Homo sapiens: one gene and its partners. The protein of the gene in region 4 interacts with the protein of the main gene of each other region in a pairwise test. Each region holds a gene or a part of one and is shown on either strand. Other genes may lie near its edges.

Region 1 (3,338 bases), on a different chromosome or scaffold from region 4:
AGACAACACAGAGTTTCTCCAATTCATAAAAGGTATTTTAATATAAAAAATAATACATAGATAACAGCTTTAAAAAGTGAAAGAAATGTATTATCTAAATTTTAAATGGCTTAGAATAGGGGCCAGATGGTGACTATCTGGGGTACTGCAGGTCCATGCAATCTTTGTGGCAGTTCTTTTCTTTTTAGAATGTAAAAACCATCCATAGCTTGCTGGTTGTACAGGCTACCGGCCAGATTTGGCCTATCGGCAACAGTTTGCCAACACCTGACTTAGATAAGAGAACTACTCAATTATTAATATGAATTTAAATAACCACTTCTAAAAATCTACTCATACTGAGTTAGCTTATTCAACCAACAAGGGGAAATAAAAAAAGACAAAGATGCTCACACTAATAAATCTTGATTAGCCATAACTGTTTACTACCTTCTCCATTCCCATACCCAACTTCATTATAAGAAAGGTAAATAATAAATCAATCGGAAAACCAAACATATTATGGAATCAGAATAAACATGGAATCTTCCATACTTCCAACATCTAAAATTCAACAAATTACATTTATTTGGTTCTTTACAGGTGACACAGCACTTTTACATAATTATCTCACTCAACCCATATTCAAAATTAGGATCTGAGGCACTACCAAGAACCTGAATAAGTAATACTTTCAGGAAAATAAAAAATATGACTGTTCAGTTTTAGAAATATAGTTAAGGAGGGTTAAACAAAAAATGGTTCTAAAATAATGTCCACTTTGAACATTCTACTTAATGTTTTAATAAACTTAAAATGATATAAAAAGACTGGGCACGGTGACTCACGCCTGTAATCCCAGCACTTTGGGAGGCCAAGGCAGGCAGATCACTTGAGGTCAGGAGTTCAAGACCAGCCTAGCCAACATAGTGAAACCCCCGTCTCTACTTAAAATACAAAAAATTAGCTGAGAGTGGTGGCGTGTGCCTGTAGTCCCAGCTACTCGGGAGGCTGAGGCAGGAGAATCACTTGAACCTGGGAGGCGGAGGCTGCAGTGAGCCCAGATCGCATTACTGCACTCCAGCCTGGGTGACAGAGCAAGACTCCATCTCAACAACAACAAAAAATCACAGTGCCAAGTCTAGTGATTCCACGTCTACACTAGTCCTATCCATAGCCTTTGTTGGAATAAAATATGAAAAGAGATGGTAAAAATGATACCTAAAAAGACACTAGATGCCAAACAGTCCCAGTGATCAGTAATAACTAAAAAACTATGAGTATCAACTACTATGTCCCACACATAGTGGTTTCCATATACTATTTTACTCAAACTACCAATAATCTTAACAAAGCAGGTATTCTTACTTTCTCCACTTAGTAGATGGGGAAAGACAGGTGAGATAGTTATAAATTACTTAGCCAAGGTGGGACGTGGTGGCTCATGCCTGTAATCCCAGCATTTTGGGAGGCCAAGGCAGGTGGATCACCTGAGGTCGGGAGTTTGAGACCAGCCCGGCCAACATGGCGTAACCCTGTCCCTACTAAAAATACAAAAATAGCCAGGTGTGGTGGCCTGGGCCTGTAATCCCAGCTACTTGGGAGGCCGAGGCAAAAGAATCGCTTGAACCCGCAAGGCAGAGGTTGCAACGAGCCGAGATCGCGCCACTGCCCTCCAGCCTGGGTGACAGAACGAGACTCTCGTCTCAAAAAAAAAAATAAATTACTTAGCCTAAACCAATGAACCCAAGTAATCTGACTTTGGAGTCTGCACTAAACATGTTTGAACAGAGCAAAAAGATAGATAGATGCAAATGGTCCTCATTTACGCAGGGCACTATTGCCAGGAAGAGGTCACAAAGAATCTACTTGTATCAGAGACAAGTATTTCACAGTAGGGAAAGGAGAACAGCAAAACATAAAAGGCTTTCAATAAGAACTTTTACCTTGAAAAATTAAACCCAAATATGTAGCAATAACTTGATGTTGTATGAAATACCAAGTAGGTTTTAACAGCAATTATCTGGTAATTTTTAGTATAAAACAAAGAATGATGCTTTAAAAGAGAATAATTTGAATTCAAAGATGAGAAAGTGCTCGAGAAAAGCAAAACTTTTAATAGTTTTACAAAAATAATCCTCTTTATGAACATGCTGACATCTTAGATATGATCATGTATCATGTATGGTGGAAAAATTCCTATACAACTTCATCAACGCAGGAAGCATCAGGGACTAAAATAACACAATCTCAGATTAGGGGACTTCACGCCCATCCTTCCCATACCCATCACCAATAAAGACATTTAGGAGTTCAGCAACAACAATGACAGTTGGGCAGATTTGACACAGGAAAATGTCTAAACCTTCCATCACCTAGCAGGATAATTCTGAAAATTCATTGTGCAGATAAGACAGGTAACTTTTAAAAAATGCTTATTTCTGAACACTGCACTGAGGGTAGACCCCCAAAATCAGTTTCAAGAGTGTGAGATAAGAGGCCTACAAATCACTCTGTCCTTTACAAACTCCCTCCTCATTCTCTGCATTTGCCTAGGATATTCACTCTATATGGAATATCTTTTTCCTAGCTGATTCTACCTGTTCAAATTTTACCGACTACCTGAAGCCATTTTTGATTACTCTGTTATTTGCCTCATCTAAACTCTCGGATCATTTATTCTATGATATGCAGTTTAGCACTTTATAACATGTGGTAGTCTTATGCCAGTCTAATTATTGTCAAAGATGTCAATCCTTTGTTCTAACTCACATAGGAGACTTTTTGTTTTTTTTTTTGTTTGTTTTTTTTTGTTTTGAGAGCTGGAGTCTCGCTCTGTCACCCAGGCTGGAGTGCAGTGGTGCGATCTTGGCTCACTGCAACCTCCACCTTTGTGTTCAAGCAATTCTCCTTCCTCAGCCTCCTGAGTAGCTGGGATTACAGGCATGTGCCACCATGCCCGGCTAATGTTTGTATTTTAGTAGAGATGGGGTTGGTTGGCCAGGCTGGTCTTGAACTCCTGATCTCAAGTGATACGCCCATCTCGGTCTCCCAAAGTGCTGGGATTATAAGCGTGAGCCATGGCACCCAGCCTCACATAGGAAACTTCTTAGAGCAACTTAAAGTTGTTCAACTATGTTATACGTCTTTCTTATGTTTTACTAAGTCTAGTACAGTAAAACATATACAATTAATTATTATTAAAATCACCTTAAGAAATACTAAAAACAAGGCCAGAATATAAGAAATAAAATATTGAGAGCCTATTAACAAACTCAGCTTGTGAGTGATTTCAGGGAATGGAAAGTTGAGTCAAAAAAAAATAGGAAAGATTTTAACAGCTTTCTGTGGATTTTATT
Region 2 (3,818 bases), on a different chromosome or scaffold from region 4:
TGTTTTTCACTAGGCAAGCTTTTTTACTTCTGAAAACAGGACAGATATTTCTCTGGGTGTCCTCAACTTTCGGCAAAAGTGGGCCTAAAAAACTTGACTACAGGTGAATCTGCTCAATGGCAAGGTGAGCATGTTCTTCCTTTGGGGAGGGGGGTTGGGGGCGGGGACACTCACAGCCCTCTGGGCAGTACTCCACGCTGTAGCCATCCAGGCCTCCTGCTCCCACGCGCTCTGGGGGCCGCCACTTGAGGGAGACCGTGGTGTCAGAGACGTCCTCTACTGCCAGGTGGGTGGGTTCGCTGGGGGGACCTGGGCAGAGGAGAGGTCAGAGAGGGGTCTGAGCAAGCCTGGGGAAGCTGGAGATCCATGCCCTAGACTCTGAACTGCCCACTGGTCACATAGGGGGCACTTCCTGTTCAGCTGGCTTTTGGCCACTTTAAGGAATATTTTGTCCCTGTTACAAGACATGTCTGTAGATTGGCTTAAAAACAAACAGCAACAGCAGCCAGGCACGGTGGCTCACGCCTGTAATCCCAGCACTTTGGGAGGCCGAGGTGGGAGGATCACCTGAGGTCAGGAGTTCAAGACCAGCCTGGCCAACATGGTGAAACTCCGTCTCTACAAAAATACAAAAATTAGCTGGGCATGGTGGTGGATGCCTGTAATCCCAGCTACTCAGAAGGCTGAGGTGGGAGAATTGCTTGAACCTGGGAGGTGAAGGTTACAGTGACCCCAGATCGCGCCAGGACTGCACTCCAGTCTGGGTGACAGAGCGAGACTCCATCTCAAAAAAAAAAAAAAAAAAAAAAAACTAAAACTAAAACTACAGAAAACATGGGAATTTCCTGGCACGTATGATTAGGTGAGTTGACTAAGAACTGAACAAACCAGGAATCAGTCCCTAAAACGAGAGGCCTGGACCCTTCTCCCCACAGGCCCCGATTCCTGCCATCTTCCCAAGCTGTGCCCCATCCCTGGGCCCAGGGGTCCTTGGCCTGCCCTTGCCACAGGCAGCTGCCCCCGGACTCACCCACCCTAGTGGGAACAGGTGTCCTCCTGAGCCCTGCCACAGTCTCAACACCTGTTCTGCCCACTCAGACCCCATTATACAGATGAGGAAGCTGAGGCTTCAGGGAGGGATGACTCCAGTTGGCCCCCCGGGGACCATGGAGCTGCCTCTGCCATCTCTGAGTCTTGGTCCAGGACTCTTTCCACAGACAGATGCCCCTGAGACCCCTCCACTAACTACAGCCCTTGCCCCATCCCATAGGTGAAAACCCTGGGTTGAAGGGTGTGGAGAACAGGGGACAATGAACATTTATTGAGCACCTGTTAGATGCCAGATGGCCTGCCTGGTCATCCCATATCATCCTAACAGCTCTCTGAGATAGGCAGTGTCATTATTCCCATTTTGTAGACATGGAAAGAGAGGCTTGAAACGTGAACTAGGGGTCGGCGTAGTGTGAGAGTCAGCTCCACCCCAACCAGCTGGGAGATCTCAAGCAGGTCATTTAACTGCTTGGAGCCTGTTTCCTCATCTGTAAAATGCGGCTGAGTATCCCCAGTCGAGGATGAAAGGAGACTGTGGATGTGAGTGTCTAGCATGGCTGCCTGCAGAGCACCTGCTATTATTGGAGGTTTTTAACTGGGGAGGGGGCGGGGGGCAGGACCAGGCCAGGCAGGCTCACCGATAGGCATGAAGGGCTGGGAGGCAGGGCTGGGCCTGGACATGCCGATGGCGTTGACCGCGTAGACGCGCATCTCGTACACCACGCCCTCGATCATGCGCCGCGCTTCATGACTCAGCTCCTGAATCAGGTCGAAGTTCAGCCGCATCCACCGGTAGCTCTTCTTCTTCTTGCGCTCCAGGATGTAGCCTGGCTCAGGGGAGGTGGCAGCTCTGGTCTGGAACCCAGGCATCCCCACACCACCTTCCCTCGGATCTGTTTGGCGCCCTCACACCTCCATCCGGTGCCCTTGCACTCACCCAGGATGGGCTGCCCGCCATCGTAGGCAGGCGGCTCCCACTGTACTGTGCAGGAGTCCTCTCCCACGTTGCTGATCTTGGGGGCCGCAGGTGCGTCTGGCACGTCTGGATGGGGTGGGATGGACCCACATCAGCCCTGCCCCGCTCAGGGCCTTGAGTAACGTTGCTCGTCCCCTTCCCACTCCAACTAACCGCCACAGGCTGCCCCCACCACCCCCAGATCCAAAGAGATCTTTCTAGAATGCATTTCTTTCTTCTTTTCCTTTTTTTTTTTTTTTTTTTAGTGATATGGAGTCTCACTGTGTTGTCCAGGCTGGGTCTCAACAGGATGCATTTCTGATCATGTCGCCAGCCCTCCGTCAACCCTTTAAGGCTTCTCACTGCCCATATTCACCCCTGTCCTGGCTCTGATCCTCCCAACCCCACCCAGTCCTCTCCTGACATGTTTCATTCATTCTCCACACCCAAAAGGCCCTTTCCCTCCTCCACCCCTTTGTACACAGTTTCCTCTGCCTGGGATGCCTTTCCTCACCATCTTCTCAGCCTCCTAAAGGCATCACCCCCAGGCACAGGGATGGCTCTCTGCTCAGTGCTCCCACGGCACTCTGGACATGGCTCATGTACAGCAGTGTCGCAGGAAATCTGCTGGATGCATCTGCCTCCATCTCCCCCAGAGCGGGGCTCCTTTTGGGCAGAAAAACCTGTCCTGTTGCCGCTCGGCTCAGGGAGCATGCCCGTGATGTTTGTCGAGTGGCTGAATGAGCGAACGGATGGGCCCTCCTTGGGGCTGCCCCTCTGTGTTCTCCAGCTTGGACCCCGGCCGGCCTCACCGATGACCTTGACTGTGAGGTTGACCTGGTCCTCGCCCACAGGGTTCTTCACTGTGACCGTGTAGACGCCCTCATCTTCCTTCTCTGCCCCCTCGACCGTGAAGATGCTGCGGTCCTTGGTGGTCTCCACGCGGACCCGGCCCTCGGTCTCACACAGCAGCTGGGGGGGTGCAGAGTTGGGGTGAGATCCAAGTCAGACCCCAGAGGCCCTTGCAGCCTCCGCCAACAGCCAGATGTCCCGGGGGTCCATGGGGGGAACACAGCCTGTGGGAAGACTGCATCCACGTCAGCATCTAGTTCAAAATCATCTCTGTGGCACCGACTGAGGGCAGGGGCTCGGGTTCTAGCTTTGTCACGGGACCTGGGGCAACCACCTGTCCTCTCAGATGAGCTATCATGAGGACCCCTCAAGACCCCAGCCTTCAGAAGAACCAACAGTGCCAGGCAGGAGCAAGACCCCGGCAGCTACACTGGCAGAAAAGTGTCTCAGAAACTACTCCTGAGTTGAGAGGGAGCACAAGGTCAAGGTCAAGGTCAGCTTAGGATGAAGGGAGCCAGGGAGCAGCCCAGTCATGAGGGCTTCCTGGCAATGAGAGGGTGTCCACATCCTTGTGATGGCCATCAGCACACTTCACAGAGACCCTCTGCCTGAGGTGTGAGGGCCCCACAGGGACCCTGCTGGGGGCAGCAACACACCCGGCCAAGTGTGGCACCTCCATGGAGACCTCGCCAAGGGCTCGGCACCACGTAGGTAGAAAGTGATGAAAGACAAACGAGCCTCCTCCTGACCTCAGTCTCACTCACCTTCTTGTCAAACACCCACTCATCGCTGTCACCTGTGTCCTCTGGGGCATCTGGGGCTGGCCTGGCTGGGGCCTTATTCCCCTGGGAACAGGGCAGGAGGGAAGTAGGGAGCAGAGGAGCTGACTCAGCCTGGAAGCGCCCCTCTGCTGCTTCTTCCACCCCCTGACCCACACTGCCCACCTTGCCTGCCCCCTGAC
Region 3 (4,923 bases), on a different chromosome or scaffold from region 4:
GTTAAAACATGTAATCTTTTTAAGGCATGGAGTCCCTTTTTATATCTATGATATTTTGATTTTTGAAAACAATCCATATTTATGACGTTGAACCCTAGGAAATTGTCATTTGGGTGGATGCAGACTGCTCACTTATAAGCAGTCTCAAATGGTTCAGTCCAAGACAAGCCTTAGTTGTTTATATGGAAGCTCAGCCTGCTCTGAGTTTGGTCATGCCGATGATTGGAGAGATTTTTTCATCCAGGGCTTTCTGTAAACTCGGGTTGAATACATGCGTTGAACTTCTTGTCTAGAAGTTAAACTGGATGCAGCCTGACACCCTGTGTTATCACAGCTGGGCTGAGGCTACAGTGCTGCAGTCAGCCCCCTCATGCTACCAATGGGTCCATGGGAAACAACGAGGGTCAGTGACCTGCTCATCGTCTCACAAAGCCGGGAGCAGGACCCCTGCCTCCGAGCTCTTGGCTCTCTCAGCTGCTGGCGGATGACTGCCAAGAAGGGTCCTGACTCGGGAAGGCATCAGGCTTCCAGATGTGTGTTTGCGTGGGCCTTTGAGAAAGGTGGAGCCATGAGTGTCCGAGTAATCAAAGATAATTACATGGTGACTGACGAGAAGGGCTTCAGCATAACTTGTGGAGCTTTGCCTAGAAAGTCAGTGTTCCCAGCCAATAGTTTACATTTCTAAAACTCCTTAAATTGGTTCTTTGGATTATGCAATTGCTCTGCCTGCATTTTTCTTACAGAATGTAAGGCAACTTGTGAAAATAACATTTTGGATTTTTCTCCCCCTGAGGGAGAGATACGTTCAGTGCGGAAAAATGAACAATGGATTTTGTTCGTTGGTGACGGCGTAGTGTCCACAGGATGTGGCTGGCATGGAAGCGAGGTGCTGCCCTTCCCGTGCTTCTTAGGTTCAGGGTCCAGTGTTTCATAGATGACTTGGAGCATTGCTTTGTACGCCCGGCCCTGACACATTGGTGTCGTGGTCACCTCATCTCATCTATTTCTAGAGGGCCCCTCCCAATATATCCTTCCAAGGTATTTTCTCTGCATCTCTCCCCTTAACTCCAACTGGGGGCGGGTGTCCACTGTCCATGTGATTTATGATTGTGCATCTGCGTCTATTTTTGCCCCAAGTCTGTTAGCATTTCCCATTGGACATGTGCGTATATGCAGAACGTGCATATGAGTGGAACACAAAGGAATATGTATCAGGTGGAATGTGGACGTGGCATCAATCCATGTGTTGAGGAAGTCATTCCTGTTTCCAATCTCAGTCTGTGTTGAGTCAATGGGACGGTGCCTCTCTGTCGATGGTAGCTTGTCTGTGACAGCTTTCTAACACTTGCTAATCTCTCCTTTGATCAAAAAAAGAGCAAGTCTTTACCATAACCCCATAAAAACACCATTATCACGAGTGGAAATTTTAAAACTGTATTTGAATTGTATTTATTTGCATGCTCAACTTTTTTATAGGTTAAATGATACTGGTTTTCTACTTAGGTTGGTGGCATTTATTTCTTCTGAAACAAATAATATGAAGCGAGTAGATTGGATTAAGAGGTTTGGATAAGGAATTGCATAATTGGCGCGAAGACAGGGTCCTCTGTTATGAAGGGGGCACGCAGATGTCTGAAATGCTGGTAACAGGACCTTAGCATTACTAACGCCTGCACTGCGATTCCCTCCCCACAGTGACGGAAGGTCGAGGGATCCTTGAGAGCATCCAGAGGTTTTCCTTGCTGCCCACCTACCTCCCCGTGACCTACCACATCAACAACGCGGACGTCTCCTTCTTCCTGAAGGAGGCCAACCAGGATATCATGAGGAACTCCAGCCTGCAGTCCCGGGTGGAGTCATTTCTGATTTACAAATCCAGGAGGCTGCCTGTCCTCAATGCCAGCTACGGGCCTTTCTCCATCGAGCAAGTGGTGCCCCAGGATTTAATGCTACCTTCCAACCCATTTGGATTCACCAACAAATTTTCTCTTAACTGGAAACTAAAAGCCCACATCCTGCGGGACAAAGTCTACCTGAGCCGGCCCAAAGTGCAGGTTCTGTTCCACATCATGGGCAGAGACTGGGACGACCGCAGCGCCGGGGAGAAGCTGCCGTGCCTGAGGGTCTTTGCTTTCCGAGAGACCCGAGAGGTGCGGGGCAGCTGCCGGCTGCAGGGGGACCTGGGGCTGTGCGTGGCCGAGCTGGAGCTCCTGTCCAGCTGGTTCAGCCCCCCCACGGTGGTTGCCGGGAGGAGGAAGTCCGTGGACCAGCCGGAGGGGACCCCCGTGGAGCTCTACTACACCGTGCACCCAGGGGGTGAGAGAGGGGACTGCGTCAGGGAAGACGCGAGGAGAAGCAATGGGATCCGGACAGGCCACAGTGACATCGATGAGTCCGGGCCCCCCTTGCAGAGGATCGGGAGCATCTTCCTTTATCAGACACACAGGAAACCCTCCCTGAGAGAACTGCGTCTGGACAACAGCGTGGCCATCCACTATATACCAAAGACCGTGAGGAAAGGAGACGTGCTGACTTTTCCTGTTTCCATCTCCAGAAATTCCACTGAAGATCGCTTCACGTTGAGGTAAGTCGTTTCCCAATGTCTGTCTGTACCCGCCCGTCGATCAGGTGGTGTTTTCCAGAAGCTGTTTGACCAGAAAAGCTGTGTTATCGCTCACCGAAGTAGAGCCGGCCTTCCCGTTCTTACAAACTCCATCTGCACCGTGGAATACAGAGACCAGTCTGATCGTTCCGGGTTGGCAATTGGGTTGTGAGAATATTCGTCTTAATAGATTTTCCAAGCCATTGATAGGGCAGCCGGGGGGCTGCTGATGGTACGCCTTTTCCCTTAGCTTAGGGTATTATCAGCAAGTTTTGGGAATGCTAAAATTATCCAAGAAGGCTTTTCAAAATTGGGAGAGTTAAATGCCTCACAGCTGAAATGAGACTGCAAATGAAATGGCAACAGTTGTCAGAAAGGACAGGGAACACGGTTTTGCCAACTCAAAATCTATTCCAGATATGTAAGTTCTAAGTATAATATGGTACCAACCTCAAAGTTACCATTTTGTTTCTCCCTGGAAATAGAACTTAGTGTTCAAAAAAATAAATGAGCATAACGTGTGAAGAATATACAGTAGAATTTGTTGAGTTTCTTATATAAGAATATACCAAAGAGAAGACATTGAAAATAAGCTCTGTGTACTTTAGAATAAATATAGGCTGGTTTTCACTGTGGAATATAACGTATGAGAGAAGCTACTTGCCTAGGCTTGTTTGTATTTTCATTATATAGTTTTAGTTTTATTTTCAACACAGGCAAGTTTGATTACAACAGCTGTTTAGTAGAAGTGTTTTTGGGTTATTAAAAATGTCCTAGCACTGCTACATAACTCAACAATTTGACCTGATGTGCAATGTAATAAAATGTGTGTTATGACTCCTGAAATGAGGAGTGTAACTGTATGTAAGACATGTTTCATATGTGGGCTTATAAACTTCATCCAATGATGACCAGCTCTCTATCCCCCTTCATATGGGATTTATGGCTGCTTTTTCTAGCTTTTCTTTTCTTCTTTTCTTTTTTCTATTCTTTTCTTTCTCCCTCTCTTTCTCCCTCTCTCTTTCTCCCTCCCCTCTCCTCTTCCCCCTCCCCTCCCTTCTCCCCTCTCCCCTCCCCTTTCCTCCCCTTTCTCCTCCCCCTCCCCTCCCCATCTCCTCCCCCTCCCCTCCCCTCCCCCTCCCCCTCCCCTCCCCTCTCCCCTCCCCTCCATGCCGTCTCCCCTCCCCTCCCTCCCCTCCCCCCTCCCCTCTCCCCTCCCTTCTCCCCTCCCTTCTCCCCTCCCCTCCCCTCCCTTCCCCTCTCCCCTCCCCTTTTTTCCTTTATGTTTAAAGGGTGGATGAGTTTAAGAAAATAAATCACCGTTTTGATTCTACCTTGCACATTTAAGTTTATTTGATTGTGACCTAGTATTAGAAATGCCTATTTTAACTAAAGAAACAGAACCTAATGGACATGCATCTAATGACTGAACTTGGCTAAGTCCTGGAAGGTAAAAACCTTTGGCCTGGCTGGACGTGCCATTCGCGGAATAGCCGCAGGGATTTAGGGTACAGGAACACATCTGCGCTGGCCAAGCCTTCATTAGCGTTCCCTTCCGTCCTTCTGGAAATCGGATCTAGATCCAGCTGGCCACAGGTCCTCAATGAGGTCTGCTAGCTTTGTGTTTTACTTTTCTGGGTTCAACAGTCTTACATAGTATTCTTTGTGAGGATGGCTGCTTACGTAGAGAAATATTTTGGTGGTGGAAACAAAAAGTTTGAATAGGGGAGCTTTGATCTTACACCGTTTCATACCGTCTGCCATTTTTTAGGTCCGCCAACGACTGACTTGATTTTCTGAACGCAGGATTAAACACTGCAATCCCCTGAAGCTTTGACTCTCAGGAGATGAGAGCCACATGCAGCTTGTGTGTGTGTGTGTGTGTGTGTAAGCAGTGATGTGTGTAGCACTGAATTTCACAAAAAGCTTTGTGTCTCATGACTTTATGACACACTAAACATATCCATTAGGGTCCAAGGGTGGCTTTTATCTTTGGCAGTCTGTAACAAAACCAAGAGAAATTCACTATGTGTGGCTGCACAATATGAGGCTCCAAGTCTTGGCAAATTCACAAGCAAATGCATTTGAAGCTTCTAAATTTGGTGGCTCCACTCACAGGTCAAAGTTTGGAAAATTTGAGAAGTACAGCAAAAGTATATTTGTTCAGAGCCCATCAATTAGAAATGTCAATTCAATTTGAAAAATCAGTTTTACAGATGAGACAACAATGAAGGAAATGTTTCATGAATGTCTGTTTACCTCGGTACGATGCTACACTGTTTCTTTAAGAGGTTGCATTAATAATGTGCTTGCTGCATACT
Region 4 (4,923 bases):
GAGGCCGAGGTGGGTGGATCACCTGAGGTCAGGAGTTCAAGACCAGCCTGGCCAACATGGCGAAACCCCATCTCTACTAAAAATACAAAAATTAGCCGGGTGTGGTGGCACACACCTGTAATCCCAGCTACTCAGGAGGCTGAGGCAGAAGAATCACCTGAATGTGGGAGGCAGAGGTTGCAGTGAGCTGAGATCGATCATGTCAGCCTGGGCGACAGAGTGAGACTTCGTCTCAAAAACAAAACAAAACAAAAAACGCCTGCTCAACAAAATCATTTACAGTGCTCATTTGAAACACAACTTCCCAGCAATAACAATTTGACTTCACCTGCCTTAGGTTACTGTTTTTTAAAAGTAAAAACAAAGTCTCATTAAAAAAAAAAATGAGCTCATTAATGGTAGAAATTATCATCAATGCTCATGTTAGCCAGGGAGATGCTGCATGCATAAAAGTTAGCTTAGAAAACTCTCTCCTTTAAAATACCACGGTAATTTGTTCTCCACATATCTTAGGGCATCCATTTACCATCTGATTATTATTTTCATGTGGAGAGCTACTGAATAAATTGTAATTTACTTTTAATGAAATAATTATCTTGTGAAGGACAAATGTTGAAATGTTTAAGGCCCCATGAACCAAGCAATCTCTTTCAACTTGGGCAAAATTAAACGTAAAAATAGTACTAACATAAAGGTAGGCAGAAGGCAGATCTAGCTTATATACAATCAGCTTCACCCAGTGATAGAAGTGACCAGGTGAATCGTCTTAAAAAGAAAAAAAAAACACACAGAAAGATTACAGACTCCAAAGTTTCAGTTGTAAGTTACATTCTCTGACATGATTAGTGACACACAATAGTTCATCCAATGTTACTAAACTCCTTCTAAAATCATCTCAAAGTCTTCAGTTAAGACTACCTTTCTTTTTAACTTTTGCTAAGTTTAATAAAGTTCTGAGACAAAGTCTGAAAGTAAGAAAGAAGTAAAGTGGATCCAATGATTTATTTCTGTAACATCCTGCTTGATATCAACATCAACCTTTGCCTTGGTAATGAAATCAACGTTTTATAGACCGAATGTTATGATAGCAGAGAAAGCATGAATTTTAAAAATAGAGAGAGATGGGTACTTGACTTGTACTTGCCTCAAGTATACATATATATATATTTTTTTTCCTTTTTTTTGAGACGGAGTCTCACTCTGTTGCCCAGGCTGGAGTGCAGCGGCGCGATCTCTGCTCACTGCAAGCTCTGCCTCCTGGGTTCACGCCATTCTCCTGCCTCAGCCTCCCGAGTAGCTGGGACTACAGGTGCCCACCACCATGCCCGATAATTTTTTGTATTTTTAGTAGAGACGAGGTTTCACCATGTTATCCAGGATGGTCTCGATCTCCTGATCTCGTGATCCACCCGCCTTGGCCTCCCAAAGTGCTGGGACTACAGGCATGAGCCACCACGCCCAGCCTCAAACATATATTTTGAAATGCGTATAAGCTTTATCAGTATGAATTCTAGGGGAAGAGAGAATTTCAGAAGATACAAAATGCAAACTGTAGGAGGATACAAAGCCTTACAAGTGTCTCCTTTGGTTAGGAACCATGCCGGGTTTTTTGGGGTCTTTTTTCAGCTTTGAGGTATAATTCACAAATGCAAATTGTATATACTCAAGGTGTGCAGCATGATGTTTTGATATAAAAGCTGAACTCACAGAAACAAAATGGAAAGGTGGTAACCAGGGGCTGGAGGTAGGAGAAATTGGAAAGACATTGGTCAAAGGATGCAAACTTGTAGTTACGAGTAAGTTCTGGAAACCTAAGGTATAGCATGGTGACTATAGTTGCTAACAATGTATTATATATTTAAAATTTGCCAAGAAGTAGATCTTAAGTTTTCTCAAGGCACACACACACGGTTATGGCCCCTACATCAGACACACATAACTATGTGAAACCATGGTAGGTATTTTACATTTTGTTATTAACCTAAGCACTTGAACAACAGATGTAGGGCTGAAGATCAAGAGAATCGCTCAGGGTACTTTAGTACCATTCCATTGGAACTTAAACGCTACGAGGGCAGGAATTTTGTTTCCCACCGCTCTTTCCCCAACACCTATACCAGTCCCTGACACACAGTAAGTGCTCAGAAAACAACTGTTGAGAATAAATGAATACCTGGCAGTGAACTAATAAACTCAAAGGGAAACGAAAGCCAAGCACATCCCATCTTGTTGTGAACACGAAGATTCTGACGGTCTCAGGCATCCCTGAGCGAGTCTGCTGTGACCACTTTGGGGTTTCACATCAGGAGAAAAAACAAATGTCCAAAAGAAGATAAAAATAAATTAGGTTAGAGAAAAGAAAATAGACATACTTAAATGAACACAAAAGAAACTATGAGAGCTTAATTTAAAGAGGTGTCAGAAACTTTCCAAAATAAAGAATCAGGCTGGGCGCGGTGGCTCAGGCCTGTAATCCTAGCACGTTGGGAAGCGGAGGCGGGTGGATCACGAGGTCAGGAGATCAAGACCATCCTGGCTAATACGGTGAAACCCCGTCTCTACTAAAAATACAAAAAGTTAGCTGGGCGTGGTGGCGGGCGCCTGTAGTTCCAGCTAGTCAGGAGGCTGAGGCAGGAGAATGGTGTGAACCCGGGAGGCGGAGCTTGCAGTGAGCCGAGATTGCGCCACTGAGCTCCAGCCTGGGAGACTGAGCGAGACTCCATCTCAAAAAAATAAAATGAAAATAAAATAAAATAAAATAAAATAAATAATAAGAATCAAAGACAAAGAATGATTATGAAGCCATCAGAGAAGGGAGAAACAGTCTGTGTATTTCAACAGAAACAAGCAAGGACAGTGAGAGGACTTTTTAAAAAAGATCTTCTTTCTCAACACATTTCTAATTTGTTCCTGCTCTCCCACCTTGAACTACTACCTTCCAGATACAAGGTGTTGCCTTTCCAAGGAAGACAGATTATTCTCGATCTCTGAAACCTTTGGATTACAGAATCCCAATACGTAAAAGGGGTCTTAAAAATCCTCTAGTCCAACCCTTGTTTGAATGAATGAGGCCACTGAGGCTCAGAGAGGTTAAGAATTTACCCAAGGTCACACAGCTGGTTATTCATGAAAATCAATGTTCCTCCTTCTTTCTCTGGCCATTGACACCTTCAATTTCCAGATAAAATCTTCCTCCTGCACCGAGAGCAGGGAAAACACTTCTTTGGACTTTTGGGGAGGTAGGTGAATGAATGAAGGAAACAAAGCATGTTGGCTGTTATGGCCCCTACATCACTTTGCTCTGCTGTGTTCTCCACGCCACGTGCCCACTGCAACTTCCTTTTGAAATATTTAAGAATAGTTGGCTGCCTGAAAGCTCTCTGATGCCTCTGGAGTGAAGACCTGATACAAATCCAAATTAATAAATTCCATCTCAAATGGGAGAATCCTGTGTTGGGTAAAGTACATCCCATGAAGCTGAGTCACCCTATTCTGAAGCACAATGACCAATTTTATCTAATCACAGAATTTTAAAATATTCAGCACTTCCAATAAAAAATGTATGAAATCATAAATCCAAATGGTTATGTGTGTGTGGCTAAAATGAACATCCGGGGGAAATTAAGACTATCAGCACAATTTAGAGAGCTAGCTGCTTCTTAACGGTACAGCCAAGCCTTTTTTTCTAACCTGGCTCAAACCTATAGAGTTATTAGCTGGTTTAGATGTCTGATGCAATATTTGCAAACAAATTGAATTAATTGCAAAATAAACAAATGTAGCTGAATTTTGCAACCAACATAGCACACAGTAAACTAAACTATCAGCTTAACTCAAACAAAAAATTCCTAAGAAAATTTATATCCAAAACCACTAAAACATTCAGATGTCATTTTCACTTTCATAACCTACCTCTTAATTCAACATATTTTAAGCTACTGAAAATCAAGTGCTTTCCCATTTGGGTTTTGGCTGGAGCGGTTTGTTTGTTTTGGAGTAACAGGTGTGCAACTGCAACATGTATATGTCTTAAATTTTTGGCTGAGATAAATTAGATATAATGTTTCAGAATGTATGAAAGAGTATTTACTTAAAATTTTGAAATATTTAAAGTATGTGAGATCTTAAAAACCTAAAAATATCAATATGGTTTTTCTATTCAATGACTGTATCTATCCATCCAAGCCTAAGTTATTTGCCAACTTTCCATGCTCAGAACGTAATTGAAAGTCCAGAAAGAAACGAGAGGCCTCTGATGAACCTAAACACAGTTCACAAATCGTAGGTGCATTATTAATAAAAAGCCCTTTGGGTCTTCGCCCAGAACCGAATTGTTCTTTTCTATTGATAGCAGATACAGAGGATACAAATTCTCACACAGCTAATTGGGAGTTAATTTCTACTTACAAACAGAAAATCAGTTCTAAAAGCCAAATGAATGCATTCCACCTGAAATGGACATGTTGAACAATTCACCTTATAAAGAGGAACACCAGGATTTTTTAAAAAATCTTAAATGGACCTTAAGAAGGAAAGCTGAGCAAGCAAAGAGACAGAAAATGATTTTTAAAATAAGGCCGCCAGGAGACCTCAAGATCACAGCAGGGTGTGGATGCTGAGTATGGAGGTCAGAGCCCCATCACCCTCACTAGACCTGAGATGGGATTCTCACGGAGAGGGGTTCCATCCCAGGGAGGCTGCGGGGACATCAAAGTAACCAGGAGGTCTTGAAAGGTGTCCAAGAGGAGAAGACAGAAGAGCTCCTGATCAGTGCTGAGGAGTGAGTGGGCAGGAAAGAAAGAAGTGATCGCTTGAGGTCAAGGGGAGCTTTATTTAGAATGGATGAAACCTGAGGATGTTTTCAACACAAGGAGAAGCCAGGAGAAGAGCAGAGTGGAAAATAAGACAAACGGGAGAGAATGG
Region 5 (5,378 bases), on a different chromosome or scaffold from region 4:
AGACCAGCCTGGCTAACATGGTGAAACCCCAAAGCTACTAAAAAAATATAAAAATTGGCCAGGCATGGTGGCACGTGCCTGTAGTCCCAGCTACTTGGGAGGCTGAGGCTGAGGCAGGAGAATCACTTGAACCCAGGCAGCAGAGGGTTGCAGTGAGCCGAGATTGTGCCACCACACTCCAGCCTCGGTGACTGAGTGAGACTCTGTCTCAAAAAACAACAAAACTAATAAATAAAAAAAAATCTGTTGCAGGAAAAAACAATTTCTCCAATTAATTCTGACCTTGCCCAAGGGGCTGTCTGCCATGACAGCTTCCCCAGAGTTTCCTGTGACATCCCTTGCTCACTCCTCTTGGGCTCCCAGGGCACGTGCAATGCTTCCTTTGGCAAAGTTTTCTCTCAGACCAGCAGGGAGGTCTATTTTCTCCCCAAGGGCAGGATCTCTGCCTGGAACATATGATACTTTATGAATGGTTTAACCCTTTGCGCATCATCTCACTGGTCTGTTGAGGCTGCACTCTGGTTCCCTAAGTGTAATGAACATTTTGCTGTGTTTTGGTAATCAATATCTTTCTTTTCCCCTTTTCTGTGGTTGATACTCGGGCCTTTTTTCTTAATCAAATATTGATATATGGTATAGTTATTAGAGTTTACTCATTACTATTTTGTTTCTTCAAAGCAAAGAGAAAAAAAATTTTAACCAAACTCTGTTTTAAATGTTGGCTTCTGAGTTGAAATGAAATGCCATCTTACTAAAAGCATACTGAATTCTAAAGACCATTTTGTACAGTCTATAAAAATACCTCATATAAATAGTTGCTTTTGAAACTTGGCTAGATTGAAGGATTATGTGGGTCTTTCAGGAATTGTGGTGGTGGTGCATTGATGTTATTGAGTCAGTTTTCATTGTGCGTGTGTGCGCGCCGAGTGTGAAAATCAACCCCCTAGGGAGAACTACATATTTCTAACTTTCATTGTGGAAGAAAGAAACTCACTTTGTGTAAATCTTGACATATTCAAGTTCAGCTCGTACCTGTGAGTTTCTATTTTGTATCTCATGGTCTTGGATCCAGGGGAGGGTGACAAGTTCACAGGCTTGGCCTGCTGGCTTTCTGTTGTGAGTTGTATGCTAAAGGTATAGTGTCTCCTCCTAATAAATCCACTCCCGTTCCACAGTCTACAATGGCTCCACCAACCCATAGGGAGTGGTCTTTCCTCTGCACAGCAAGAATCATAGTACATCAAAATGTCTTTTATTTGAGACACAAAAATGCAAAATTGCTGAGATATCAAACATTTCCCGATCAGCTACAATACTGCCACTATGTACAAAAGATCTGATGATAAATGTGCACACATATAAAAATACAGTATGCATTACTTATGTACAGTACATGTGCAAAATGTATGGCATTCAAACATGATATGGAATTGATTTCAGGGGTGCAAACAGCAAATACAAAGGCATCATGGTTTTTCTTTTAAAAAACAACATAAAGGCAATAGATGAATGGACCCCCGATTGCCATAATTTTTTGTTGATTAAACTAGTGCTTCAACAAGCAGGGCTCTGTAGATTGGTATCTTTCTCCTTTTTTTCATAAAGTGAGATGCTAAGACATAATGTGACAATGAAAATAAGAAGAGAAACACCTATCACATTGCATTTCTATTGCAAGCAAGAAAAGAAAACTAATTTCTACATAGAAAAAAAACTTTGTATTACTACTGAATGTTACTCTTAAACCAACAAAACAACTCTATACTATTTTACATGAAAACAATAAGAGAAATATCTACATCTTAGTGAAAATTATAACCTTAAATGGATAATACCTTTTTGGGGCTGATTTTTGAGATCTCATTAGTCTCAAATTTTAAATAAAAAGTGCCTCCTTTTGGCAAATACTTGGCAATGCCTTTGGTTCCTTTAAAGCAAGTTTGCATTACTATTGGTTACTTGAGGTCAAGTACTTTTGGTAGATACTAAACCCTTTCCTAAATGCTTCCTCTTCCTACCAAATTAGCAAGATTCCTTACAGCATCACGTAGAGAGGTAATTGTTACGAGTTTCAGTATTCTATAAACTTTGTTAAAGCTTTGTCTTAGTAGTTGGCATAAAGCTCTGTTAAACACTATAGATGTGATGATATCTCTGATAACATATTTTATTTGATTCCCGACAGCACCTTGTAGATCCGAGATTGCCATCTTATTGTCACAAAGCTGTGACACCACAGAGCAAAGTGTTTGCATGGAGGGTAAGAGCTCTTCTGTAAACATGTGCAGCTTTTCGAATTGTAGGCCTTCCATGAAAGATTTCAGGTAGAAACCCTTTGTAATGATGTGTTTCCCTGGATACTGCAAGAAAGGGCGAATGTGGAAAAAACACGCACCTGCTCATTGCCATGCAGACAGAGTCACTTTACAAATAAAAATGTAGCTCAGAGAGACTGCTGAATGAGCAAGTTATTGAAGGTTTGAACCAGGAAAAAAAAATTACTACATCTTAGTTGTTTTCCAGTTTTGACTGAAATCACTTAAAAGATGAGTTGAAATGCAGTTAGGATGCTCTCCAGATACACACTGATGCATTTGTAAGCTATGTTCCTTGAAAAACCTGACCTTCCAGTTAATGTTCTTTGATAATTTTGGGCTAATTCTGTGGCCTCTAGGGCGGTGGGACGATTTGTATGGGTATTCTCTTGTCAGTATTCAATATTCATGTTTACAGTAGCAGATATTGAAAAATGGAGGGTTATTTGTGAATTTGGTTAAATTGACACATGTTGCTCTGCTAGTAGACACTGAATAGCTATTCTCTTTACATTTCTCTAAAAAGTCCCCAGCGGCACCATGAGCTCCCCACCTGAGTGACAGCCAGGACTTCTGTGAGGCTACCGTCAGGTGGGTGCATGGAAGCCAGTGAGGATGTATACTGAAATGTGGGCTTCTCACAAATATTTTAAACCCTGCCAAAGTGCTTTACCACGTCTCTAAGGCCAAGTCCATTTGAGGACAGTAAAGGGACTATCTCATCACTTGTGGGGATAGCTGTTTTGTCAACTGCTATGGCTGATTTCAGCCTGGGAATTCTGAAAGGACTGTGAAGAAAGCTATGCTGCCTGGAATGATCTGGGGTTGAGGGTCCAGGAAGCCTGAGTCAGCTCTGGTGACAAAATAGGTAGTGCGCCCCTGAGCCATCACTCAGGGTATGCTGACTGCACAGTTCAGAGGTGCTATCTCATTACTATGACTTTGCCTTCCATAGGCAGCAGCTTGCAGGCAGCACCACCCTGCCTTTGCCACTGTTTCTAAACAGCACTGAAAGCCAAAAAGTGTCAGTTACATGGATCACAGAACCATGCGGCTTTTAAAAAGGAAATTTAAATAAGATCTCTTTTAGAATTACAAAAATATTCATATGAAACAAACACAATAGTATCTAAGCAAGAAATTCCACAAATTCAGAATACATCTATGTACAATTATGTGGCAATACTATACAGTAGATTGCACATTTCAGGAAAAACACTAGAACGTGAACCACTAACACTGTCCTATGAGGTTTCCTAGTGGATGCTTTGCTGAAATGTACAAGATGACCACCTACTCCTAGACTTTCAAAGACTTTACAGAAATTTTGGTATAACTTTTAAATTCATCCCACCCCCAGTAGGATGATCTGACTATCTACATACAGCAGAAAGGTAAGGCTGGTACTACTGTGTTTTGAGAACATGTAGGAAAGTAAGATGGGGATGTGAGATAATGCCTTTCTAGGAGTTATTTTCTTGGCAGTATGATACTTTACAATATGATATACAACAGTACCACTGCTTAAACCACACACGTGCATAATGAAAATTCAACTGGCGACTTTGACTTGTGCTGTAATGGCTGTGACACTAACCTAAACAACAACAACAACCAGTCTTTAGTCAATATCCACCCTTCCTCATTGCACTCACCATCACACGCACTGAGTCCGGTCAGAAGGGCCTTGTTTACAGAGTATCATCTTTGGTCATGTCACATGAGTGTGAGCACATAGCGCGTCCTCACTCCAACCTGGAACATGTAGTGGAGATCCTGGAGAGCAGCACTCGTGTCACAGGTGCCTGGCTGGTGACCCAAGCCAGGAGAGAGGAGGGTCAAGCGGAATGGTGCAAGTGGAGTGGCTTGCAGAGTTAATGGGTAGAGATGCCTTGTCTTTTTAAAAGTGAAATACTGGTTTATAAAGGTTTAAACACATATGTGAAGTGGGCACTTTAGCAATTCATAGGAGAGTAGGCCAATGAGATAGCATTTTCTTGCACTGCACTGTGTATTTTTGGAGAGCAACCTTCCTGTGGCATGTTTCAAACCCTATTTTAAAAAGCAATAAAGGGACCCGAGAGCTAGAAAACTATCTACACAATTCAGGATTATGGAAATATAAAGTTATTCAACGAGAGTCAATGGTACTAGTGTTCGGTTACCTTCTACAGTCCCACTGATATTTGGTGCTAATTTAATAAGCCATTCAAATCTGAATGAAGAAGATGCTCAGGGTCTAAGTATGGACCTGATAGGCCCAGACAGAAACCCTCAGCAAAAAAACTGTGGCCAAGAACTGTAAGAAAAATACTTTCCCAAGTAAATAGCCTGGCCCTGGAGACAGGCCCCTCTCAATGGAACTGACTCGAGGATTCACAGAACATCTAGTGTGGTAAACTCTTGTAGGGCTTGGTCAAATGACGGTGTTCTGGTTAACAGAGAGTTATTGTATCCCGTGTGTTGGTTTACCAATTTCTGAACACTTAAACTATTCATCACAGACTACACTGAGCACAGTGGCCTCTGCCTTGAACCGTCTGGAAGGCACATGAGCACTGTTAGTGCCTTTGAGTCAGGAAGTGCCAGTGAGCAGAGGGCTCCAGTGTGCTCATGCTGGAAAAGCAGACTTTTGTTACACGTAGTAAAATTTATAAACCACACACACACAAATCAGAAATAAGATCAGCTCTTAGGCAAAACACAAACCCAGAAATAATTCACAAATTCTTTCCAAATAACGGGTCAGGCTGCCTCCGGCATGTCAGTATGGAACATTTACCATTTTGTGACCCAGGGGAACCAACCTGACCTGAGGGTTTACACAAGGGTGAGGTGGAGAGCACAATATTATTATTTAAGAAAAATCTCCATGCTCTTTTGGTAGATTTCAGTTTTTTGTTATTTACATTTTGTCATATACCTCAATGACTAGCTTGAAATAATCCTGTGATAGTTGGCATTTTAGAAAATTCTTAAGAAATGACTTAACACATATGTAATAACTGTTTTCTATATAAAAACACTAATAAAGCCTCCAGTTTTTCAATCTTAGGCTTGACA
Region 6 (4,923 bases), on a different chromosome or scaffold from region 4:
CATAACCACCTTCTTAGTGCTGTCTAGGCTGTTTTATGATAGAAAGGAAGTCACCCTTTACCCAGGTATCATAATAGAGGATCCTGAAACAGTGCAGATACATACAGTGTATCCATATAAATGCCTTTTTGCCAACAGGCCTGCTCTCATTAACTTCTACATTAGGTCATCAATTGAGTCTGTTAATGACTGCTGTTATTTATTTAAAATTTTGTCCAGCTTTATTGAGTATAATAGACAAAAATTTTTAAACTTAAGGTATACAGGCCAGGCACAGTGGCTCACACCTGTAATCCCAGCACTTTGGGAGGCGGAGGCAGGAGGATCACCTGAGGTCAGGAGTTCGAGACCAGCCTGGCCAACATGGTGAAACCTCATCTCTACTAAAAATACAAAAATTGGCCGGGTGTGGTAGCACGCCTGTAATCCCAGCTACTTGGGAGACTGAGACAGGAGAATCACTTGAACCTGGGAGGCAGAGGTAGCAGTAAGGTGAGATCACACCACTGCACTCCAGCCTGGGTGACAGAGCAAGACTCCACCTCAAAAAAAACCTAAACCAAAACAAAACAAAAAAACCCAAAAAACCAAAAAACAAACAAAACACTTAAGGTATTCAATGTGATGTTTTAATATACGTATTTACTATGAAATGATTATCATAATCAAGGTAATGAACATATTCATCACTTCACAGTTACCTTTTTGAGTATGAATATGTGTAGTGAGAACACTTAACATCTACTGTCTTAGCAAATTTCAAATATACCATACAGTATCACTAACTATAGTCACCATGCTGAAGGTGACCTATACTTAGCAGATGATCACCTTAGAAGGTGACCAGAGCTTATCCTGCATAACTGAAACTCTGGCTGATATCTCCCCATTGCTCTCACCCTCCAGCTCCTGGCAACCACCATTTTACTCACTGCTTTTATGAGTTCGACTTTTTTAGATTCCACGTGGATCATGTGGTATTTGTCTTTCTGTGTCAAATACCACCCAGTTTAATTCTCTTAGCATAACGTCCTCTAGGTTCATCTCTGTTGTCGCAAATGACAGGATTTCCTTCTCTTTTTAAGGCTGAATAATATTCTATTGGGTGTGTACATATACATCTGTATGTGTATATATGTATGTGTGTATATATATACAGATATATACTGTGTTTTCAAAAATCCATTCATCCATTGACACTTAGGTTGATTTCATATCTTGGCTATTGCGAATAATGCTGCAGTGAACATGGGAGAGCAGATAGCTCTTCAACATACTGATTCCATTTCCCTTGGATATATACCCAGAAGTAGGATTGCTAGATCATATGCTAGTTCTATTTTTAATTTTTTGAGGCAGTCCATTCTGTTTTCCATAATGACTATACCAATTTACATTCCTGCCAACAGTGTACAAGGGTTCCCTCTTATCCACATCCTTGCCAACACTTCTTATCTTCTGTGTTTTTGATAACAGCCATTCTAATGGGTGTGAGATGATATCTCACCGTGGTTTTGATTTGCATTTCCCTGATGATTAGTGATGGTGAGTACCTTTTCATATATCTGTTGGCCACTTGTATGTCTTCTTTCTAGAAATGGATATTCCTTTATCATTTTTTAACTGGGTTATTTGTTTTCTTGCAATTGAGTTTGTTGAGTTTCTTACATATTTTGGAATATTAATTCCATATCAGATGTACGATTTGCAATCCATAACTTCATATCAGATGTACAGATTCCCCTATTCTGTAGGCTGGCTTTTCACTTTATTGATTATTTCCTTTGTGGTGAAGAAGTTTCTAGTTTGATGCAATCTGTTAATGATTGTTTTTAAAGTGTGCACAGGGTTCCAGGACAATTTTACTCTCTTGAAATTAGAAGCCCAAAATATTTTTCTCTTTAGGATGAAATTTTTGCTATTCTACTTGTATTTATAATGCTTTTGTGTAATAGAAAAGTTGGCAAATTAAATTTAGGTAAATGAACTTCTTCTTTAATTGCATCCTAAAATAATTTTGTTCTTAAAATAATACAAAAATAAAAAAATTTTAAAGGGAAAAATCACTCAATTATTACTTCTGTACTATGAAAAATTACTCAATAATCTTTTCTGTGGATACACCTTTTCTTAAAGCGGAGAAAGTTTTCCCCACATTGAGAATAGAAAGGTTAGAGAGATATGTGGAAACATTTGATCACACCCGAGAGTGTCAAAATCAGACTCTAGCCCAGCATTAATTTTAAACCATCCCCAAAACAAAAACAAAACAAAACAGAGATAGAAACAAGAAAACACATAAAAGACAAAGGAAAAATGCTTACATGGATTCTAAGGCCACAGAATAGCAAGTTTCATGAATCATTTGCCCAATATCATGTATGCCACATGCATTTTTCTAAACATGATTTATTGTCACAGTAAGTGCAACAAAACTCTTTTGGTTCACTTCATGTGAACTTGTGAGCCACCGAGGGTGCAGACTGGAAAACTTTCTGCAATAGGTACCTGGACTCTGTTTACCTGACACCAGTTCATTATTCAAAGTGGTGCCAAAAAAGCAGTCATAGGTATTTTAAATGTTAACTCTGTGGTCAAAAACACCAGTGGAGAGCTGTGTAAATTTAGGACTGCTCACACGGGAGACAGAGATGAGCTGCTCATAAACTCCAGGATTCATCAAATCATAGGCGTATCTTTCTTGTTTGCAGTCATATCCCCACTGGCTAACAAAGGGCTTGTCTCATAGTAGGTGCTCGTTAAATATTTATTTATTAAATACTAAATACATTGATGACTTAATGAGATAGCTGTGAAGTTTCAGCAGAAGGGGCAGGGAAGGAGGGAAGCAAATTGGTATTGATCAAGCACTTCCCATGTGCCCGGTACATCCTACCTTTTCTTCTGCATAATCTGAAATATTATTCCCACTTTATAGATAAGCAAGCTAGGACCAAAGAAGTAAAGTGAATTGTTCAAGGTCCTCTAGCTAGGAAGTAGAAGATGCAAACTCAAGACTGACCCTGAAACTCTCTTCTGTATATACATACTCTCTTGATTCTCTCATTGATGAAACAGGCTTATGGAGGAGGGGCCACTCTCCTCTGTGTATCTGTGCATGGGCCTCTTGCTTTTCCTTTTTCTTTTCTTTTATTTATTTATCATTTTTTTGGAGCAATTTTATTTTAATGCTCTCACTTTAACACCACTTGCTTTTTCTTACCAAGCAGATTGCCAAGAAATTCACTCCAAAGGCAAACTTTTGCATGAGTTGAAGATTGAAGATTTCGGCTGTCATCTTCATAAGAAAAAATGCCCTGAGGCCGGGTGCGGTGGCTCACACCTGTAATTCCAGCACTTTGGGAGGCCAAAGAGGGTGGATCACCTGAGGTCAGGAGTTCGAGACCAGCCTGATCAACATGGAGAAACCCCATCTCTGCTAAAAATACAAAATTAGCTGGTCATGGTGGTGCATGCCTGTGATCCCAGCTACTCGGGAAGCTGAGGCAGGAGAATCACTTGAACCCAGGAGAGAGAGGTTGCGGTGAGCTGAGATCACGCCACTGCACTCCAGCCTGGGCAACAAGAGTGAAACTCCAACTCAAAAGAAAAAAAAAAAAAGCCTTGAAAATATAAACAAGACTGGTCCTGTGAATGCGCGTTTGTGGTTTCAAGAGGACTAATTAGGTACCGTATGGGTTCACATGTCTATCTACATAAATAAGTACCCAAACAACCTTAAGTTATCTGTGTTTCAGTGTCAACACTGCACACCAAAAAGGGGAATGTGTACTGGTGATAGTTAAAGGTCATTCTAGGTCTCAATGACATCCAGAAAAAAGTCTGTGCTCCTAAGGACAGGGCACCCATCCAACTGTGTCCTTTGTTTCAAAATTCGTCCAAACCTGTCTAACCCAGGTCATTCCATTTACTTTGTCTGTCTCCTTGGCAGGCTTAATTTTCATTTCTGTATCTACTTTTCTTAGTATAACTTATTTTCATATTAAAGTATATTTCCCTTGTCTACACTGTAATATCCACAAAGGTGGGTTTATCACCTATTTCTCACTATGCTATTGCAAAGTTTTCTGCATACAGAATAAAGGCTGACAAAGTGAGTTAAAGGTAGTGGATATGCTTTTGTATGAATACTGGGAAATGAAAATAAGGATGCACAAATATCTGGGGTGGGAGAGAAATTGGTTGCTCATGATTTTACTGGTTTAATTTTGCTTTGTTTCATTTTTAACATACAATTTCAGTGACTTCCTATCAATCACAGCCATGCTGCTTTCTTTCCTCTCTCTCTCTCTCTCTCTCTCTCCCACCTCCCCAACCTCACTTTTAAAGAGACAGCATCTCACTGTGTTGCCCAGGCTGGTCTCAAACTCCTGCGTTCAAGTGGTCCTCCTGGCTCAGCCTCCCAAACTTCCGGGAATATAGGCGTGAGCCACTGTGCCCAGCCAAAGTCATGCTTCTTATTACAAAAGTCATATCCCTAGGGGTCGTGTATTACATTGTGGAAATTTTGGGAAAATTTTTAATGTGAAAATAGCCATCTATGTGTTAAGGAAAGAAGGAAAAGTTCATGTAATTTTTAAAAATATTATATGAAATTCCTAGAAAACTCTGTACTTGTAGTACATCTCATGGCTAAAAGGATGCTGTTTTCTGTTTTCGTTTTGTTTTGCTTTTCATAGTAGCCTTTACTTTTGTGAGAGCAGTTTTAGGGTTACATAAAAATTGAGCAGAAAGTACAGAGCTCTTAAAATAGCCCTTCCCCAGCCTCCTGTCCCCTCTCTACAAAGCATGGTTTTCCCCTATTACTAACACCTTGCACAGTGTAGTATACCTGCTATAACTGATGAACCAATATTGACACATTATTACCACCTAAAGTCCATGATTTACATCAAGGTTTGC
Region 7 (4,005 bases), on a different chromosome or scaffold from region 4:
GGTGAGAGGCGACACGTAGATGGGGTAGCCCAGCGGCTGGTCACAGGAGGAGTTGATCATGTTGCGAAGCGCCTGCTTGGCGTTCTGGATGCTGCCACGCTCGGGGTTGCGGTTGCGCAGGAACACCAGCTCCTGCTGCTGCCCGGCCCACAGGCCGCGCACGCACTCCCGGTTCACCTGAGAGCCACACGCCAGGGTCAGGGGGCCGGCCCAAGGGGGTTTGGGGCAGGGCTTAGGGCAGGTGGGGCCGGCCCAACCTTGATGACTCGGAAGCTGAGGTGGCGCCGGTTGAGCATGATGATCTTGTACTCGTCGGAGGCATCATCCAGGACATGGCGCAGCGCCAGCAGGGAGGGCGTGTTGCTGAGGATGGCGCTGCGCCATGCTGGGTCACCCTCATGTGAGATGACCAGCCGCTCCTCGTTGGCCGCAATGGCATCGTATAGGGCTGCTGGCTCCTCATATTCATCTGGGGACGTGAAGTGGTCCTGGTAGAGAAGACGGGAACAGGGGTCAGTGGCCCCTGCCCTGGAGAGAGGCTTCATCCCCCACCTGCCCATGCTGCTGGGCACACCCCTCCCCAACCTGGTGAAGCTTGAGGGCCATGCGAACCCCAGGCGCCACAACGCGGTGAAGCAGGTCCATGTCGGCAAAGACCCACTCGTCACGTGGGGAGGTGATGCGAAAATCCCCCTTGAACAGGGCGTGCAGGCCGTAGAGGAAGGGCTCCAGGCTAAGTGGGAGGAAAAACAGGGAGGGGAGAGAGGGGTGTCGAGGACCCAGGGGTAAGGCTTCAGAGTGATCCAAGCAGAGGCCTTTCCTCACGCTGAGCCTCAGTTTCCCCATCTTGACAAAGAGGCCAATCTCTGCCCATGTCTCTCACAGAGCACTGAGGAGCAGGCAAGGTCATGACCAGGAAGTGCCCTGCCCGTGGGAGAAGAGGTACCCCAACAGGAAGGGCCACTGCAGTTTCTGTGGCCACTGTGGCCAGAGACCACAGTGCTCTTCGTGGAAGAGGTGGGGTGGGGACGGCAGTAGGCCCCGCGGGACACCCGAGCACTCACCTTGCAGACATGCTGTGAGAGGCTGTCCCCAGGGCCCGGCGGCCCAGCACACACAGGCCAAAACACAGCGTGACCAGCGGGGAGTTCCAATCCTGGTCCACGGGCTGTGGCATAAGGACCCCCATCCCAGAGCCCAGCTCAGACCTGGGACAGGGACCTTGGAGTGGGGGCTGGGGCTCAGGCTAAGGGAGGCTCAGAGTGAGAGGAAACCAAATGGGGAGAAGGGGAGCAGGGAAGCCCAGGTCCCACAGCCCCAGGTGGCAGCCTCAGGTAGTGGAGCCTGACCTGGCTGCGCCGGGAGGCGCAGTACTGGATCCACTCGAGGTGCACAGCACAAAAGGAGGGCAGCGAGAGGCCAGACAGGCGGAGGTCATAGTCCTCATCCACACTCAGCGAGAAGGTGGGATCCGAGTCGGCATAGCCGGGCACCCGCACAGGCCTCAGGGCTGCCGTGATGCCCTCATGGCTGAGCCACACCTCCAGCTTTGGTGAGCGGCTCACGTAGTAGATGATGCTCTGGGAGAGGAGGGGCAGGCGTCAGGCCGGGGTCCCGGCCCTGGCCACTGGAGGAGAAAGCATGGAGGTTCAGAGGCTCCTCCCCAAGACTGAGCTGAAGTCCGCTTTCTGGGATGCCCCGCTCCTAGAGCCATCTCAGCTCTCAAGAGCAACCAAGCAAGTTGGCTCCTTCCCCTAGACCAGGGAGGAGTGACAAAGCCGCCAGGAAGCACCCACTTACAGAGCAGGAAGTCCTGTGCTGGGGCTAGCACTCACAAGCAGCATCTGCCTGCCTCTGCCCTAGAATATGCCCCGTTTGTATGAGAAATTGAGGCTCAAACAAATGGCAGCCCCCAACGAGAACAAGATCATCACACTCAACATTTACCACCTCAGCTTCCAAGTCATCAAGGTGGAGCTGGCCCCACCTGCCCTGAACCCTGTCCCCCACCCGCCTCTGGCTGGCCCCGACACTATGGTGTGGCCCTCAGGTGAACCTTCAGTGCCTGTGCAGCACGTGGGCCAGGTAGCAGCAGGAGCTGGTGTTCCTGCACAAACATAACCCCGAGCGCGGGAGCATCCAGATGTCACATGGGCAGGGGGCGGGGAGCGAGTGGGGCAGAACAGACTGAACTGCCGCCTGAACCCCGGACCTTCCCCATCATGACATTGTGGGATCCAGATCTCGGGGCCGGAAGGGCAGGCTGAAGTAGTGGGCCTGCCTCAGAGTGCCTGGGTCACAGGTCCCTTTAGGCAGCTGAAGCATGACAGCCATCAGGCCTCGCCTCAGAAAAAAGCCACGGGCACATGTGGTACCCAAAGCTGGGGGCTCCTGGACCTCTTGTTAAAAGGCCCTGTTGGGCAAAAGTACAGGAGCTTTGGAAGACAGGTAGCTGGCATGGCCAGGATGCACGGGCGGGTTAAGGCCGGCAGGGCAGCCAGTGAGGTGATGGGGATTCCATGTGCCACCCTAAGATGGAGCTAATGGGGCAGGCCCTTTGCCAGGGCAGACCCGCTCCAGACTGACTTTCTTGCCCATAGCTCGCCTCTACAATCCAGGCACCACCAGAGCTGCTAAAAAGACCCAGAAAAGAAAAGCTTCAGCCAGACAGGGTGGCTCACACCTGTAATCCCAGAACTTCGGGAGGTGGAGGTGGGAGGATCGCTTGAACCCAGGAGTTCAAGACCAGCCTGGACAACATGGCGAAACCCCATCTCTACAAAAAATACAAAAATTAGCCAGGCATGGTGGTGCATGCCTGTAGTCCCAGCTACCTGGGAGGCTGAGGTAGGAGGATTACTTGAACCTGGGAGGTGGACACTGCAGTGAACCCAGATGGCACCACTGCACTCCAGCCTGGGTGACAGAATGAGACCTTGTTTCAAAAAAAAATAAAAAAAAGAAAAGCTTCAGGGACCGGGAGAGGAGCTGGCCTGGCACATATCAGGTGCTTGGTTAACCTTCACCAGTGCCATCCTTTTCTCTGACACAACACTCACGGTCATCTTAGGAAGAAAATGAAGACGGGGGGCAATACCAGCAGCCGCTCCGCCTGTGAGCGCTCACTGCGAGCTGGGCTCTGCCCAAGGTACTTCCCGGGAAGCACTGCCCAGACTCCGTGCAGCCTCAAGCCACGGTGCCTTTTCCTGCTCTTGTAGCCCTTCCCAGCTGCAGAAGCAGGTCTGAGAGCCCAGTAACTCCCACGGGAAGGGCAAAGCTAACGGGAGGGGCTCCGCCTCGACTGGCCAACCTCGAAGGCTGGAAAGGACCTATCCCTGCAGCTGGGACACTTCCCCAGATGCACCAGGCTCCCCAGCACACCCGCCTCCCCCCGCCCCACCCCTGGCAGCCCTGACTTGTCCTTCCAAGCTTCACCCTCAGTCCACATCCTCAGCGGAGCCACCCCAGGTCCTCCAAGCACTTCCTCCAGACTCAAATTCTGCCCAGCCTTTGAGGCAGCCTTAGATGTGGCCAGTCAGCTTCCCCATGGGACAAGAGACCTGGCCAGGTGCATCTCAACCTGCTGGCCCTAGCCTAGCAGGCACAGCAGGGCAACCTGGGCAAGGGCACCTCTCTCAAGATGGGACCGGAAGGTGGACCAGGCCATGACCTCTCGGTGACCTGGGACTGGGAATGTCCCTCTCTAGACACAGCCTCCTTCTTGATGAAAGGGGGGTGGTCTCACAAATCCTTGCCTAGGAGTGGCTGGGAGGGCAGAAGGAATGACAAATGACAGCTCCTCTGATATGTGGTGTGGACAGGATTTCCTTTGGAGAAGGACAGCCAGGGCCTCGTGAAACTACTCCAGAGAGAACCTAGGTGGCAGGCTCACCTGGGCCCCAGTAGGCCACCCACCGAGCCCAACATAGGGAGCACCAGGGTAGATCCTAAGAAGGCACGTGGGAGCCTGCACTGTGATCAGCAGGCCACCCCACTCCCAGTACG

What was found.
Region 1: the proteins of SVIL (region 4) and LUC7L2 interact in a two-hybrid assay, tested with the Homo sapiens proteins (one large-scale study listed by BioGRID and IntAct).
Region 2: the proteins of SVIL (region 4) and MYBPC3 interact in a two-hybrid assay, tested with the Homo sapiens proteins (one study listed by IntAct).
Region 3: the proteins of SVIL (region 4) and TMEM132D interact in a two-hybrid assay, tested with the Homo sapiens proteins (one large-scale study listed by BioGRID).
Region 5: the proteins of SVIL (region 4) and MRTFB interact in a two-hybrid assay, tested with the Homo sapiens proteins (one study listed by BioGRID).
Region 6: the proteins of SVIL (region 4) and PPARG interact in a two-hybrid assay, tested with the Homo sapiens proteins (one study listed by BioGRID).
Region 7: the proteins of SVIL (region 4) and PCNX3 interact in a two-hybrid assay, tested with the Homo sapiens proteins (one study listed by BioGRID).

Annotation. Positions count from the first base shown.
Region 1 is NC_000007.14:139,418,570-139,421,907, reverse strand, and holds part of LUC7L2 (putative RNA-binding protein Luc7-like 2), read right to left. Parts: intron 1-3,338. UniProt on the Homo sapiens protein: May bind to RNA via its Arg/Ser-rich domain.
Region 2 is NC_000011.10:47,335,703-47,339,520, forward strand, and holds part of MYBPC3 (myosin-binding protein C, cardiac-type), read right to left. Parts: intron 3,703-3,818; coding exon 3,622-3,702; intron 2,978-3,621; coding exon 2,818-2,977; intron 2,093-2,817; coding exon 1,988-2,092; intron 1,878-1,987; coding exon 1,689-1,877; intron 310-1,688; coding exon 175-309; intron 1-174. UniProt on the Homo sapiens protein: Thick filament-associated protein located in the crossbridge region of vertebrate striated muscle a bands. In vitro it binds MHC, F-actin and native thin filaments, and modifies the activity of actin-activated myosin ATPase.
Region 3 is NC_000012.12:129,697,471-129,702,393, reverse strand, and holds part of TMEM132D (transmembrane protein 132D precursor), read left to right. Parts: intron 1-1,695; coding exon 1,696-2,584; intron 2,585-4,923. UniProt on the Homo sapiens protein: Regulate neuronals morphology via inhibition of the WAVE regulatory complex (WCR), a complex that controls F-actin cytoskeletal dynamics.
Region 4 is NC_000010.11:29,624,298-29,629,220, forward strand, and holds part of SVIL (supervillin), read right to left. Parts: intron 1-4,923.
Region 5 is NC_000016.10:14,262,632-14,268,009, reverse strand, and holds the end of MRTFB (myocardin-related transcription factor B), read right to left. Parts: 3' UTR 1,237-5,378; downstream 1-1,236. UniProt on the Homo sapiens protein: Acts as a transcriptional coactivator of serum response factor (SRF). Required for skeletal myogenic differentiation.
Region 6 is NC_000003.12:12,374,647-12,379,569, reverse strand, and holds part of PPARG (peroxisome proliferator-activated receptor gamma), read right to left. Parts: intron 1-4,923. UniProt on the Homo sapiens protein: Nuclear receptor that binds peroxisome proliferators such as hypolipidemic drugs and fatty acids.
Region 7 is NC_000011.10:65,631,701-65,635,705, reverse strand, and holds part of PCNX3 (pecanex-like protein 3), read right to left. Parts: intron 1,628-4,005; coding exon of another isoform or gene 1,581-1,627; coding exon 1,350-1,580; intron 1,169-1,349; coding exon 1,065-1,168; intron 734-1,064; coding exon 586-733; intron 489-585; coding exon 258-488; intron 178-257; coding exon 1-177.